Regions from separate parts of the Homo sapiens genome. Here region 2 is linked to region 1. Evidence: fine-mapped expression QTL. Tissue or cell type: esophagus muscle. Region 1 holds a variant in brackets; the other region holds the start of a gene. All regions are shown on one strand. Distances are from middle to middle.

The links. PIP is the estimated chance that this variant, and not a neighbour inherited with it, causes the effect. A credible set is the group of variants that fine-mapping cannot tell apart.
Region 2: LINC02147 starts here. The variant in region 1 is the best candidate, but not a certain one, in a credible set for the expression of LINC02147 in esophagus muscle (GTEx, PIP 0.76).

What each region holds. Positions count from the first base shown.
Region 1 is chr5:118,225,535-118,230,691 of GRCh38, forward strand. The region is part of intron 2 of LINC02147 (long intergenic non-protein coding RNA 2147); the gene reads left to right. Among named protein-coding and RNA genes, the nearest start is that of LINC02148, 54 kb to the right of the region's middle. The variant C/T (reference allele first, on the strand shown) is at 2,248.
Region 2 is chr5:117,727,796-117,732,952 of GRCh38, forward strand. It overlaps LINC02147 (long intergenic non-protein coding RNA 2147), which reads left to right and starts at 2,566. Exons shown (of 3, transcript NR_104997.1): 1 at 2,566-2,613.

The sequences.
Region 1 (5,157 bases):
TCACATGAGTACAGACAGTTTCATATTTCTCATGGTTTTCCATATGTCTCTCCTTCTCCGTCTAATTTTTTCTTTTCTGCTTCGATAATATGTAAGTTTAGCTATAGGACATATTGGGAATACTTTTCTTCTAATATATTTTCTAGAATAAAAATGTTGTTCTTCAGGACTCCTGAAACCAGATGTAATTCATGGTTAAAATCCTTCACAAAATTATGAAAAAGTTTATTGTTGACACTTACAGACTCCTTTATGTAATCTGTTTTTCTTTCCTTTGCCTTCTGTCACAAATCGACACTCAGAATGAGAGTTGATATGGTCGTTGATAAAAAAATGTATAAAATATAGATAAAAGGAATAAATACGTATGCTTACTAAACGGGCTGACTGATCTGTTGCTAATATTCACCCATACCAGTCAGTTAAGAATGATTCTAAGCTTGTACTCATGCTCAGTAGGATAATAAGCCATGCGTAGCGAGTAACTTTTCATGAACTTTGGCTAAAGTAGACCTCTTCCAAAAGTGTTTGCAGTTTTTCAAGGTAGAGATACAGTGAATTAGATGACTACTATGTGATGGAAAATATATTTGGGAGGAAAAATTTTCTTAGGTACTCCTAATTTTTATTCTGCTTTTCTAGCCACACACATATTTCCTAAAATGAACTACTGTGGCAGCATCTTAGAAATAATGAGTTGCTGAGTCCTTTAGAAGTTTTTCTCTTCAAACACCTTATGGAGGATATTTAGCGCAGCATGTACTTTCTGAGGGCTGTCCCCTTTTTCTTCCCCAGCCTTGCTCCTCTCACATGAGATATCATTTCTAACAGCTCCAAGAGAAGTTACCTGTATTTCCTGATGCCCCCAAATTGCCCTTAATCAACACACAACACATTCCCATGTGGAATCTTCACCTATTGTTCATTTCCTTCGTTAATGAAAACTTCATCTTCCTCTCCCCTCAACACTGCCATAGATTTCTATGACAATATTATTCAGACATCAGTAGTATGGCTTCTAGCTTTCTATTTTGACAAGACTGTATAAACCCAAAAAAAAAGCCAGACCAATTTTTATTATGAAAATATAGCATATAATAATAAATTTTAATGTTGACTTTTATATTAAAAAATGGCACTTTTGTAAACTCTCTTCTGGTAAGACTACAAATTATATCACTTTTCTAGTGGGCAATATGAAAGCATGTATCCAAATTACAATATGTATATTCTCTGAATTTAATCTAAAAAAAACATAGACATAGGCAAAGATACATATGCAACCTGATATATACATGTAAATATATATACACATTATACTTATACAAAAGTGCTATATTTTTTAACCTAGTAAGTCGCAACCCAATTTATATATTATGTATATATATGCAACCTAATTTATATATATATATGTGTGTGTATATACATATATATTTTACATATATATAAAAATTGGGTTGCAACTTACTAGGTTAAAAAAATAATAGTTTTATATAATGGATATCATTGCAGCCAATACAATAAATAAGATACGAACATGGAAATGAATTGTTATTGAGTAAACTATCTGTTTAAGGGTAAACAGATAAGTTGCAGAATTGGAGAAAATATTTGCAAAATATGCATCTTACAAAGGTCTAATACCTAGCATCTTTAAGGAACTCAAACAAATTTACAAGAAAAAACAACCCCTAAAAGCCCACTAAAAGTGGGCAAGGGACATGAACAGACACTTTTCTAAAGAAAATATACATGTGGCCAATAGCATATGAAAAAAAGCTCAGTATCACTGATCATTATAGAAATACACATAAAACCACAATGAGATACCATCTTACACCAGTCTGAATAGTTACTATCAAAAAGTCAAAAAATAACAGGTGCTGATGAGGTTGCAGAGAAAAGGGAATGATTATACATTGTTGATGGGAGTGTAAATTAGTTCAACCATTGTGGAAATCAATGTGACAATTCCTCAAAGAGCTAAAAGTGGAACTACCATTTGGCCCAACAATACCATTACTGGGTATATATACCCAAAAGAATATAAACTGTTTTACCGTAAAGACACATGCACACAAATGCTCATTGCAGCACTAGTCACAATAGCAAAGACATGGAATCAATCTAAATGCCCATCAACAGTTGACTGGGTAAAGAAAATGTGGTACATGTATATTATAGAGTACTACATAGGAAAGAACAAGATCATGTCCTTTGCAGGAACATGGATGGAGCTGGAGGCCA[C/T]CAACCTTAGCAAACTAATGCAGGAACAGAAAATAAAATACTGCATGTTCTCACTTGTAAATGGGAGCTAAATGATGAGAACACATGGGCATAAAGAGGGGAACAACAGACACTGGGGCCTACTTCAGAATGGAGTATAGAGGGTGAGAGGAGAGAAAGCAACAGAAAAAATCACCTGCAGGTACTAGGCTTAATACCTGGGTGATGAAATAATCTCTACAACAAACCCCCAGGACATGAGTTTACCTATATAACAAACCTTTACTTGTATCCCTCAACCTAAAATAAAAGTTAAAAAAATTATTTGTAGTTTCGTATTTGTACTCTAAGGTATGTTTATATATTAATTGTCTTGGTAAGCCAAATATATAAGTGTGTGTGTGTGAGCGATATATATATGTGTGAGATATATGTGTGTGAGAGATATATGTGTGTGTGTGTGATACATATATATGTATGTGTGTAATGGTTATCTCTGAGGAGTGGATTTATAGAATTGGAAGATAATTTTCTATTTCACACACTTTTTGTTACAACTTTTATATCAGATCTGTATACCTTTATAATTTAAAGTATTTCTCCATTTTGAAAAACATTACTAGTGGGAGAGGACACAAGGCAAATAACCTAATGAGAAATTGAATCCAGGAACAATTGAAAGATGGCTTGTACAACAGCTTCTTACTCTTATTCTCTTTGCGTGCATGTCACCTAAGTATTAGAATGTATTTCCCTTATATGGCTTCTCATTATCATCAAGCACTCTCCATTTCCTGAGATTCCTGAATTACGTCCCTTGTTTCTAACTAGATTTGTTTCTAAGCAGATTTTATTCTTCTACTCTATCTCCCTGTGCTGAGCACTGTCCTTGGCAGAACAAGACAGCAACTGCAACAATGATTCAGACAAGAACAAACACAGCTCTCCCACAGGACAGCACACACAAGGGGAAGTTCCCCTATGCCCATGGAGGGGAATTGCTAAGCGAACTGTAGTTTAGAAATTCTTGCCCAGGAAGAAGTGATGGGCTTGTCAGTAGTTCTCTGATTGCTCACTTACAGTTAGCCTGGATTCCTTGGAGCAATGAGGTCATCCAATCTCTAGGATGTAAATCCTAATAATTTCTGGGCACATAAGACATATTCCTTTTATTATCTGTGGATATCAAAATTGGGCTATATCTTTTGTTTCTCTTTTTTTCCTCATAGACTCATTTTTGGGGGTTCATGTAGTATTTCTCATTCTTCTTTCTATACTAAATGCTCTAGTTAGGTTTTTCTGGCAAAAAAAATTATAGCCTGAAAGTTGCTTATGAATCTGTTTCTATCCTTTTGACTTCAGATAAATCCTTTGAGAATAAGCGAAAGAACTGCCCCCTGTTACGGTTTTAGCTTTCATTGCACTTTAGTATAGAAGTATGAAATAAACCCTTCAGTCAGACATGCAGGAACACAATATGAAATGAGGCCTTGGGAAATTTGGCATTGTTATGGGATTAGAGACAGCCACAATACATAGTCAGTTTTTTAAAACGGGCTAGCTATAATTTTGGGACAGCAAATGTACTTCAAAGTGAATATATCTGTACACATAAATATAGACATAGTTATACACATGCAGGTTAATGAAAATGTGGATAGGGGCTGTTCTACTTAAATGTTTTCAACTTATACATATTTATAGACACATACAAAATTACATTGACTTTACTCCACAGAAAAAGTAGATCAACATGCCCACTATCTAGAGTTGGCATTAGCATTAGTGCCTTGTAATTTTAGACCCTGTGATATTTTATGTTGGTCTCTATCTGCAGACTAGTTAGTGAGGTTGGCTTAGTTTTGAGATGTTTTACCAGCCTTATTTGCTGTATCTTTGGTAACTCTTGGTTTAAGAAAACATTTAAATTTCTACTAAGAGAGCTAACAATCACAGCTGAAACAAAAGCAAAGTAATTTAAAACATGCACGTAGATTAAAAGTGGTGAGAAAACAAAAAAATACCTTCCGTGTATATCGCATAAATCATTCCATAGTGAAAATGACTCTGAAAAACCACACACAAATCTTGCAGCAGGTGTGTATCACTCTGTTTGTGTAATAAATACTAACAATATTAACACAGCCTCCCAACTTGTCTTCCTTTACATTTGCTGCCCCCCCCGCCCCCACTCCGACCCCATGTTTCATTCTGATTCCAAACACAGGAGCAGAATGATCCCACTAAAACACAAGTAACATCATGTTACTTCCCTACTCAAAATCTTCCAATCTGTTTTTTTCCTCAAAGATCTATTAATCTTTCCGCAACCCCAGTTGCCCTTCTTGCCTCATCTAGTTTGCCTCTCCTTTTTGCTCAAGATGTTCCTTACACGCAGCTTCCTTGCAATTCTAAGAACTCATTAGCACTCTCCCACCCCTGTGCCTTTGTGCCTAGTATTTCCATTCTTTGGACCAATTTCCTTCCCAATACACAAGACTCTTTTCCTTTCCCTCAAGTATTTCCTCTGATGTCACCTTTCCAAGGAAACCTTCCTTGACACCCTACTTAAACTGTAACACTCCCTCCTTTTCTGTTCTAATTCAGTGCACCCTTTCCCCCTCCCTGCTTTAGACTTCTGCACAGTGCTTACTAGCATGTGGCAAACTATATGTATTTACTCATCTATTGATTTCTGTCTTCTTCTATTTGAAATAAGTTTCTCGAGGGCAGGAAATTTTGTCTGTTGTGTTTAGTCCTGGATACCTAGTACATAGTAGGTACCCAAAAAACCTTTGTTAAAGAAATGAGTATTTAGTGAATTGATTAATGAAAAATAAAGGATGACTATGTCTGCAATGAAGCAAAGTGACTTGTGAACTGGGCTTTAAGTGTCTACCTAAAAGATCAAGATCCATATGGGTATCTGTT
Region 2 (5,157 bases), 500 kb before region 1:
GAAGGTGCAAAGCATGCACTTGGTTGAACACTTATACCAAGGATGGAGGAAGTAAAATGCAGCTGCACAGAACTGAAAATATTTTCTGGAAAGTAATGCTGACAGGTGATATGCTTTTAAAGAATGGCTTCTTACTAGCCATGCAAAAATATGCAAAAGTTGTTTTCACCCAGCATGTTCTGGGTCTACAAGACATTCTGCAAATGTACTGAGGTCTGTTACCAAAAAAGGAAGACGAACAAAAATAAATATTTTAATATTTCTAATATTTCTCCTGGTAGAAGCCCTGAAGTGATATAAAGTGCCTGCATTATAATGAAAATGAACTTGAGCAAACCTTGCATTTGGATGTGGATTTTTCCTATGGATCAGGATTTTTGAGTACCTGGAAGAGAAAAGGAGCATTATTTGTTATAATACTTTAACAACTATTTCAGTACTGCTTGTTAGACAATTTTTAGGAAGACTACACATAACTTTTTAGGAGATATGTGGAAAAAACAGATGTTGACCAGTATTACTGTGGTACATAGGTGGAATGCAATTGCTCTTTGATACAAAGCTCTACAAAAAAAAAAAAAAAAGGTTTTTTTAAATTATAGATTTTCCTAGTTAACCTGTAACTGTGTTTTTTTTCTTAGAGAGATAAAGTGATGGAAAAGAAGGATGAATAGTCTGCCCAGGACTCATAATGTTGGTATTTCTTTTTTATAGTTAATTCACAAAGGTGGTTATCACTGGTAACTCTTTGTGGAAAATTCTCCATTCTTTTTTCTTTAGAAGTAAAAAGGGACTGTTTCATATTTTATCCAAATTACAACCAAATTGGTGAGGAAAATGTGAGTCAAAGTATTTTCTAAGTCATAAATATTTTTGAATGTTTTTGCTACTAAAGTTTCACTATAACAAATCTCAAAGAAATAAAATATACTAATAGGACATTTATGCTCTTCAAGGAAGTTCTGATGGGAGCATTTAAGTCTGGCCCCAACCTGGGGACTACCTGCTTACTTATTGTCCCCGAGGTTATAGTCATACCCTGAGGTCAGTGGCTTCAATCTTTCTGTAGTTGCTGGTCAGCTGTGGGACAGAACTGAATCCACCTCACATTCTATGTTGGGTACAGCTGAAATTTAGTGAGTTCAGCTGGGCACAAAGCTGAGTAATTTTCAAATAGAATAAAGCAAAGCTGTAATCTATATCTTTTTCTTAAACACCCTCTGTACCTACCCATTAGTAATAAATTTGGCTGGGTGGTTAGAGTTTGGGATGTAGAAGTGACTCTAATATTTAAGAGATGAGTCTGCTAGTTTACTCTTTTTTAAAATAATTTTTGAATTTTGAAACTTAATTTCTAAATAACACTCTCTAAAGAATCTAGATCAAAAATTGTTATTTCATCAGGAGCATTAACTAAATAAACACTGTTAATAATAGCATTGAAAATTATTACACACCTATTGGCTCAAGCTTATGGCTTTTGGTAGAAGAAATAGCAGACCATAATTCAGATTTCATTCATTCATTCCCATCAAGAGGAAAGGGTTTGCCGATCTAAATTTGAGCAGGTTGGTGAAGTATGCATATGTCTTTACAAACTTATTTCATAGTTTCATTTAACAAATCTTCAGGTTCAATTTCACCCTCAATACATGCCTTATAGAGATAGATATCACAATTATTAGATGAATTTATGATTTTAGGGTTTGCATCATACCCATATATTCACAAGTTTATAAATTCTGTTTTTAAAACCATCAGATCTTGTGAGACTTACTATCATGAGAACAGCACAAGAAAGACCTGCCGCCATGATTCAGTTACCTCCCACCGGGTCCCTCCCACAACATGTGGGAATTCAAGATGAGATTTCGGTGGGGACACAGCCAAACTATATCAAGAGTTTAACTGACAACTGCAATCATCCCAGACACCTGACCCCACTTGCCTGTACCTTTCCTCGGAGGTCCAATAAAAATGCCTGAAGCTCAGTGTTCCATTTAGGGTTCCACTTTCTCACCAGGATGTCTGTACAAGAGATGCATAGTCTTACGGGAGAGTAAAGTATATATCTTTAAACAATTTGTTTACTATGATATTCTACTAAGTGCATTTATTATCTTGCTTTCTCTCCTACCAGCAAAGGAAAAAAAATCATCTTAAGTAAATTTTTATAGATGATACTATCCCAAATTCTTCAACAAATGTTTTCCTGTATAATTTTTAAAAGGTTTGTTAAATGATAATGCCTTACTGATAGATTGTTGTATAGAAACTTTACTGGAAGGGATTCAGGAATACTGAAGAATGGAAGAAATCACAGAGAAGTCCAGCTTCTGATTCACCTTTGTGGGTGATATGGTTAGGCTTTCATCTTGAACTGTAATCCCCATGTATCAAGGAAGGAACCTGATGGGAGGTGATTGGATCCTGGGGGTGGTTCCCCTATGCTGTTCTCTTGATAGTGAGTTCTCAGGAGAACTGATGGTTTTAAAAGTGGCTCTTCCTTCTTCACTCTGTCTCTCTCCTGCCACTATTTAAGATGTGACTTGCTTCCCCTTAGCCTTCTGCCATGATTGGAAGTTTCCTGAAGCCTCCCAGCCATGCGGAACTGTGAGTCAATTAAACCTCTTGATGTGGTTTGGCTGTGTCCCCACCGAAATCTCATCTTGAATTCCCACGTGTTGTGGGAGGGACGCGGTGGGAGGGTCTTTCCTATGCTGTTCCTAAGCTCACAAAATCTGATGGCTTTATAAACAGGAGTTTGCCTGCACAAGCTCTTTTTTTCTTTCTGGCCGCTGTCCACGTAAGATGTGACTTGCTCCTCTTTGCCTTCTGCCATGATTGTGAAGCTTCCTAAGCCACGTGGAACTGTGAGTTCTCCATTAAACTTCTTTCCTTTGTAAAGTGCCTAGTCTGGGTTATGTCTTTATCAGCAGCGTGAAAACGGACAAATACACCTCTTTTCTTTATAAATTGCCCAGTCTCAGGTAGTATCTTTGTAGCAGTGTGAGAACAGACTAATACAGTGGGCATGTTCTGCTCCATACAATCTGACACTTGATTATAAAGTAATTGTTCGCTGTACGTTCTTTTATCTCAGAATAACCTGTTTTCTAATTAGTGCTTTATAGAGTGTTATAAAGTGTTATAAAGTGTTACAGAGTGTTACTTTAGCCTTTGCTTGCTGCAAAAGAAAAATTGGGCCAGAAATTGGCTATATATCTATCGGATCTCCCTCCCTCCCTTTCTATCTCCCTTTCTCTCTCTGACGAATCTAATCTGTGAACGATGGCATTTGAAAGCAAAGCAAAATGCAAAATACGCAAAAATAAAAGTTCTCTGGTGTTAGAAGACAGAAGAATCTTTTGAAAATTTAATTAAAAATTAAATTACCAGGCCTCTTCCTTAGAAATTCTGATGTGGTAAGTCTGAGCTGGTATCCAGGAATTTCCACTAAATAAGCTTCCTTGTAATTCCATTGCAGGTGATTCTTCTACTCATGTTAAAAACACTGGCTTAGGGAATCTGTATTAGGGATTATTCTGGTTGGCAGAATTTACCTATTTTCTAGCTATTCTACTGATATTTCCAGAACTGGTGGTCTATGATAAAGCATTTGAAACTTAAGTATTCGATTCTGGCTATTTGAAACTCACATTTTTCCCAGAAGGGCATTATTGTCCTATTATGAACCCAACAGCCATTCCTGCTTTCCTTTTTATTGACTTTTGCTTGACCTACTCAGAAATAACTATTATTTGGGTCCAGCGAGGCCCCAGGCTGTTACATATTTAGCACTTCTTTCTCCAACTCTAAGCCATCCAGCTTGGCTTAGCTATATAAAAAGCTCTTTCTCACAGCGGTGTTTCTGCCTGGTTGTTTATTTAGTGCATATCAGTTCACTGTTGCTTGCTGAATTGTTTCTTTTTGCTTGGCAGAGATGTTAAGTTCCCTGCTCCTATTGCTACATATTATCTGCAGCTTTCAGCCAAAATTATTAAGCAGATTTTGTTTAGTGAAGCTACATTTATTTAAAACAATTTTCTTTACCTGCAATCATTTGACTTTTTCATGATGTTCCTGCCTGATTTGCTTGAGATTTTTAATGATAATTCACCAAATAGTATACGGGAAGGTGGTTTATAAAATCATGTAGGTATTTGAATGGTTCAAAGGATTTTACTGTTCCTTCCACCCCAACATGTACCTCTTTTCATTGTAATTTGCTTGTGTGTGTGTGTGTGTGTGTGCGTGTGTGTTTTCATCCCTTCTCAGTTCTTGAAAAAGAAGTTGTGCCACATAATTAGTGGCCATTTAAGTCAGAGGTAATTTTTGGTTTACAGTAGCCATATGTCCTGATGGCACAGTTATTTCAAATACATTATTCAATTTTCTTCATGAATGTATTCATAGTTAATATGAGCGAGTCCTGAATTACGGGTGAGGGTTTATTTTCACCATTGCTCAATTTCAACAATTTGTGTTAATTCTACCTTCTAAACATCTCATGTATTCTCTCCTTTCCGTCCCAGTTGTCACTGCCTTAGTAAGCTGTCACTGTATTCTGCGGTGGACCATTAGGGGCCTGAACCTGAACTTCTATTTGCCCTCTGGATTACTCTGTTTAAATTCTTCCACTACACTTGAGTGATCCTGGACAATCTGCCTTCTCATGCCTCTGTGTCAGTGGTCCCCAACCTTTTTGGCACCAGTGACTGGGTTTGTAGAAGACAATTTTTCCATAGACTGGGGTGGGGGGAAATTGTTTCAGGATGATTCAAGTGCATTACATTTGTTGAGCACTTTATTTCTATTACATTGTAATATATAGTGAAATAATTATGCAATTCACCGTGAAGTAGAATCAGTGGGAGCCCTGAACTTGTTTTCCTGCAATCAGATGGTCACATCCGGGGGTGATGGGAGATAGTGACAGATCATCAGGCACTAGATTCTCATAAGGAGCTCGCAACCTAGCTCCCTCACATGTGCACTTCAAATAGGGTTTGTATTTGCTCTTAATAGAATCCAGTGCTGCTGCTGATCTGACAGGAGTTAGAGCTCAGGAGGTAATGCCAGTGATGGAGAGTGGCTGTAAATATAGATGAAGCTTTGTCCACTTGCTAGCCGCTCACCTCCTGATGTGAAGCCCAG